Regions from separate parts of the Homo sapiens genome. Here region 1 is linked to region 2. The links come from fine-mapping of genetic effects on gene expression. A gene starts in region 2. The other region holds a variant in brackets. All regions are shown on one strand. Distances are between the middles of the regions. Region 1 has its middle 6.1 kb from the start of LINC01039. Region 2 holds the start of TM9SF2 (transmembrane 9 superfamily member 2).

The links. PIP is the estimated chance that this variant, and not a neighbour inherited with it, causes the effect.
Region 1: its variant is the best candidate, but not a certain one, in a credible set for the expression of TM9SF2 in whole blood (TOPMed, PIP 0.54).

The regions. Positions count from the first base shown.
Region 1 is chr13:99,569,568-99,572,480 of GRCh38, reverse strand. No RefSeq gene overlaps it. Among named protein-coding and RNA genes, the nearest start is that of LINC01039, 6.1 kb to the left of the region's middle. The variant C/T (reference allele first, on the strand shown) is at 1,572.
Region 2 is chr13:99,499,931-99,502,843 of GRCh38, reverse strand. It overlaps TM9SF2 (transmembrane 9 superfamily member 2), which reads right to left and starts at 1,372. Exons shown (of 17, transcript NM_004800.3): 1 at 1,067-1,372. The coding sequence starts at 1,237. LINC00449 (long intergenic non-protein coding RNA 449) reads left to right here and starts at 1,781. Exons shown (of 2, transcript NR_133664.1): 1 at 1,781-2,449; 2 at 2,904-2,913. RefSeq lists enhancers at 992-1,580, 1,487-1,666.

The DNA.
Region 1 (2,913 bases), 70 kb before region 2:
CTTCATGCCACCTCCTCTTGCACTTTACACACACATACTCCCTCTCTCACACACACACGAGTGCCCATTCACGTACACGCACCACAGATATATTGGGCAGGAGGTTGACGAAGGGGGTGGATGGCTCTGGGATGACGAAAGCTAACCCAGACACGCATTGCTGCATCAAGTCGTCACTGTCTGCCAGCACGTTTGCCAGAGTAGGAAGGGATTTTTGCTGGGGATACTTTGTGCAATTCCAGCAACAACCAACTCACATTTCTCCAGCATGAAGTGAATCCATTACACCCAGGTGTTCCCAGTCCTTCCCATCTGGGTTACTGATGTCCAGAAGAAGATTCTGCCACTTCAATTCTGTGGCATCATCAGTGTGTCAGCATGTCTCCTCTCCTCAAGGGGCTGGCAAAGTTCTTCCAAGTCACATCATCCAGGGCAGAGTAGTGGCAAGTCTGGAAGGTGGCTCTGGGTCCTGGCGGTGGTGGCCACCTGCGAGGGGACCTGTAGTGTGGCTGTGGCCCCGTGGCTGTGTCTTGGGATGAGTTCTAAGTCCCCAGCTCCTTTCCCTTGGCACTGCTGAAGCAGGAAGCCAGCAGGAGTGCCCTGCAGTGTGGCTCATGCCAGTGTGGCTCGTATCAGCTTAGAGCGGGCTATGAGCCGTTCCCAGTCAACAGAGTCACTGCCTCGGTTCACCACTGTCTATGAAATGGTCCTAGTCAACTGTGGCACAATTTGTCTGGCTTTAGCATGAGCCAGAGGAGCCTTGTTCTCTCTGACCTGGACAGCCTATGATTTTCTTTGATAATAATGCTAACCCTAAAACATTTAGCGTATTTTTAAAACCTGATTTAAATTTGAATGTATACAATGTCATTAATTGTAAGCTATCAGTAAAAACCTTTTAAAAAGTGGACTCTAATCCTTAAATATATCATTTCCAACTTATATCTCATATTTAACTCTTTTCAGAGAAATTAATGACCTGTGACCTATTATAGTGCTATTTATTTATCATGGTCAACACCACTCACGTGGCCTAGACCACTTTTGGCTAAAAATATCCGAAGGAATTAACAGGACTTTTTAGAGCCATGCTTTCTTCTTCACTAAATAAAGGAATTAATTATATTATTTATTTATTTATTTTTTGAGATGGAGTTTCGCTCTGTCATCCAGGCTGGAGTGCAGTGGCGCGATCCTGGCTCATTGCAACCTCTGCCTCCTGGGTTCAAGAGATTCTCTTTCCTCAGCCTTCCAAGTAGCCGGGATTACAGGAACCCACCAACATGCCCGGCTAGTTTTTGTATTTTTAATAGAGACAGGGTTTCACCATGTGGGCCAGGCTGGTCTCAAATTCCTGACCTCAGGTGATCCACTCGCCTCAACCTCCCAAAGTGCTGGAATTACGGGTGTAAGCCACCGTGCCCAGCCAAAGAATTCATTATTAATGAGAATGTCAAATAATCATTAGGTCAAAAAATAAAAGGGAAAAAAGAATCAAATTTGAGCATGTGTATATGAAGTTCAAGAGAGTGAGGTGAAGAAATCCAGTGGAGGCCGGGTGCGGTGGCTCA[C/T]GCCTGTAATCCCAGCACTTTGGGAGGCTGAGGTGGGTGGATCACGAGGTCAGGAGATCAGGACCATCCTGGCTAACATGGTGAAACCTCATCTCTACTAAAAATACAAAAATTATTTAGGCATGGTGGCGCTCGCCTGTAGTCCCAGCTACTTGGGAGGCTGAGGCAGGAGAATGGCGTGAACCCAGGAGGCGGAGCTCGCAGTGAGCCGAGATCGCACCACTGCACTCCAGCCCAGGCGACAGATCGAGACTCCATCTCAAAAAAAAAAAAAAAAAAATTCCAGTGGAATTCCAAAAGCAAGAGAATGTGAAGAAACAGTGATTTTTAGTGTTTAGACTTCAAATTACATAGTAAAGGAGAGAACAAATCAGTCATAGGAAACAGGTTTGGTTCCATCAAAATATCTGAGAAAGAAAAGCATGATTTTCTACATATAGAACCTTGTAGGCAGAGAAATTATGGTCACCATCTACTTGGGCTATAGAACACAAAATACAAATATGAAAAAACTTTTTTTTTTTTGAGACGGAGTCTTGGAGTCTCGTATCGTTACTCAGGCTGGAGTGCAGTGGCGCGATCTCAGCTCACTGCAACCTCTGCCTCCTGGGTTCAAGCGATTCTCCTGTCTCAGCCTCCTGAGTAGCTGGGACTACAGGCATGCACCACCATACCCAGCTAATTTTTGTACTTTTTAATAGAGATGGGGTTTCACCGTACTGGCCAGGCTGGTCTTGAACTCCTGACCTCGTGATCCACCCAGCTCAGCCTCCCAAAGTGCTAGGATTACAGGCATGAGCCACTGTGCCCAGCCAGAAAAAACATTTTCTTAATGACATATATTTACATATTAATGAAGCCCCAGAATGTCCTGCTATTCATAGGGAGAGACCTTTCTTTCTGAGGGTTTTAAAAGGTTTAAAAAACCTTTCCCAACAGCTGAGCTTTTTTTTTTTTTTTTTTGGAGGCAGGGTCTCACTCTGTTGCCCAGGTTGGAGTACAGTGGTACAATCATGGCTCACTGCAGCCTTAACTTCCTGGGTTCAAGTGATCCTCCTGTCTCAGACTCCTGTGTAGCTGGGACCACAGGCACGTGCAACCATGCCAATTTTTTTTTTTTTTTTTTGTAGAGATGGGGGTCTCATTTTGTTGCCCAGGATGGTCTCGAACTCTTGGACTCAAGCAATCAATCCTCCTACCTCAGCCTCCCAAAGTGCTAGGATTACAGGCATGAGCCATTGCATCCACCCCACCAACCCTGCTTTTTTTTTTTTTTTTTTTCCTGAGCAGTTTTGGTTATATCAAAAGCAAGACTTCTCAAATAAAACAATGATCTGATTAC
Region 2 (2,913 bases):
TGTAATAAACACCAGCTTAAAAAAATCAAACTTAATAAATAAGCCTATTTATAGATTGTAAACGTTTGTTGAACGATTATTTGAATTGTTGAAATCATTAAAGGTTTCAAAGAGATCCTCATCCCCCAAATGTTAAGTTTTAAATAAACTTAACGAAATAATTGTGTATGTATACTGTAAAGCCCTACACCATATAACCTAAAAGCAGGTTACTTTATTTACGCCTCTTTTACTAGCAATTAAACTGAAAACCTTGAGTGTGAATGTTGTAAGAGATCAAAGTTTTCAAGACTTGCCCTAGGAAAACACCAGTTTCTCCCACCATTTGCCCCTTTTAAGTGTTTAAAACCATCTCAGAGAAAATAGTGAGACCTCGTATCTTTTTTTGTGTATTAAAATCTTTTACACTTAAAACTCAGAAATCAAGTGCCTCAACCATTACAGCAACTCTTTATTAATGCACTTTGTGTGGCTCTGGGTGTTATACTCCACAAATAAGGAACCAACTTCTAATTGTGAAGCGAGATATCAAAGTCCTAGAAAGAACAAGCTCTCCTAACCAACTAGAAGGTTCCAGGAAAATGCAATTAAACAGGAAGCAATGAAGTTAAAAGCTAATGGAAACTGTTAACTAGGCTGAGTGTTGCTCACATGTAGGGAGTCGGTCACCCGCTTCCTCAGCGTACATGTTACAGGGCTGTGAGCGAACACTCACGCGTGGACCTGCATACATCCAACTCCAAAGCTCTGAGGCGTGAAGCCCAACTCCAAGGGCGCTCCACACGGTCCCTGTTCCAGGAAAACTGAATACAGCTGCTCGTGCCACTTGGCCCGCAAGACGGGAGGCGAGTCTGAGGCCCACTGCGTCCTCCAGAAACTACCCTTGCAAGGGCTGTTTCAGAGCCCCCCACCCACAGCCCAGCAGACCCCAAAAGCTTCTGGGGAAACTCAACCCCACCCGCTGCTACGCCCCCTTCCCTCGCTCCCACCCGAGGATCAGCTCCCCCGGATAGGGACGACTTCCCCTTCCAACAGTGCATCAGAGGGCTCGTCAGGCCTCACCCACCTTGCACTCGTCGCTCTTTTTTTCTTCGTCGCAGAAGTTGACGGGCGCCAGGCCGGGCAGGTAGAAAGCGCCGCTCCGGCGCGGGCCAGGAACCGCCCCCAGCAGGAGCAGCGACAGCAGCAACAGCCGCGGCCACCGAGGTGGAGACAACACCGGCAGCCTCGCGCTCATGATAGTTGTTTCGGGGAAAGGGCAATCAAACCTAGGGGGTCAAGAGGGAAGGAGGGGTGGGGAGTCTCGGAGACGACTACAAGGCCGCCAGAGATAAAGGAAGCCGGCCCCCAGAAGGCTAGTTCCGGTTGCGCTAGGAGACACCCCGGGTCCCGCAACAGAAACCGAAGCGGACCGCAACAGAGCATGCGCACCGCCGTCTGCACATGCTCAGTGAGAACGGTCGCAGGCACCAGGAGGAGTTTCCGGGAGGGAGCGGGGGCGAAATCCACTTTCCGGGTTTTCCGCGCGCCAGCTGAGGTGGTTGCTGGGAGAGGTGGTTGCTGGGAGAGCTGTTCCGGCGCTCACGTTCCAATTCCAAATTACAAATTCCGATCTAGAGCTCCCACGCTTGGGGGCTGTGGAGCGCTCGCCAGCCGCTCCCCGTTTGCTGCTGGGTCTTACGAAGTTCTCATATCCATCATACAGTTTCTTTGTCACACTGTCCGCGGCACGCCAGTCCCTATGACAGAAAGCACCTGCGGTCTGTCTGGAGGCGGAGTTGGTGGCGGAGAGAAAAAGTTCTGGAGACACCTGGTTGGGAGCAGGCTAAGGAAACAAATGGGGAGGAATTAGCCACAAATCCTCAAATAGACAGCTACTCAAAGGCATCTTCACGGACAATTTCCAAGCATTGGATGCAGTGGTGCATTCTTGCATTGGGCAGTGATTGTGTGCACACATCTCTTTAAGGGAGAGTGGAAATGGGGTGAGGAGGAAAATGGGAGTAGGATAGAGTGTAGCGTTGACATTTATTTTCTTTAAAGGAAGACCCGAGCATACCTGAGAGCTCAGTGAAGAAAGTAGTTCTGGCGAATCGGATTAATATGGTATGATCAGCCTTTAGCAAGATTCTATCACTTTTCCCACTGATGATGTGAGACGGTGTCCGCGTGTGTAAGTGCACACACGTGTGTGTGTGTGTGTGTTGCATCTTCTGAGTATTTTTCAAGGAGAAGCTTTTTAGTGATCTGAAAAAGTCAATTCAGTTAGCCACTAGAGTTCAATCAAAAACTTCGGAAGAGTGCATCATCTTAAAGTACATAAGAGAGAATCATGACCTCCAGCTCAGAATTCAAGAATAGGCAGGTTTGTGAAATAGTAAGCTCAGAAAGTTGAGGGCCAGTGAACTCCTATTTCAAGTTCTTGCGGGTGTTTGTACTTTTTTCCCAGGTAAGGTTTATAACTTTCATCAGATTTTCAAAGGGACCTAGGACCCTGCAAATTGATCCATATAGTGGGGTAGCCAAGTTAATCAAGAGAACTGGGAAGTAGAAAAGAACGTTCATCTTAAGGTTGTTGTGAAGATTAAATCAAAAATGGAGGGAAAGTGCTGAGCACATAGCTTGGCCCAAGGAATGGCACTTTTTTTTTTTTTTTTGATAACAAAAACTAATCTGGTAGGGCCTGAGCAGAAAATTGTGCCTAGGTGGCTTCCCTTTCATGTCCTCTCCCTCAAATAAATCAACATATTCGCTGAACTTTGGGATAGGGAAAAATTGTAAAATATTCTGTATTTGGAAGTCATGGAGATTTCCAATATAACAAAAGGAAGCAGACGTTTTCTCCAAATATTAAGAGGAGGAAACAAAAATTAACATTTTTGCTCACTATCTTCTTTTCCTAGCACCACTGAA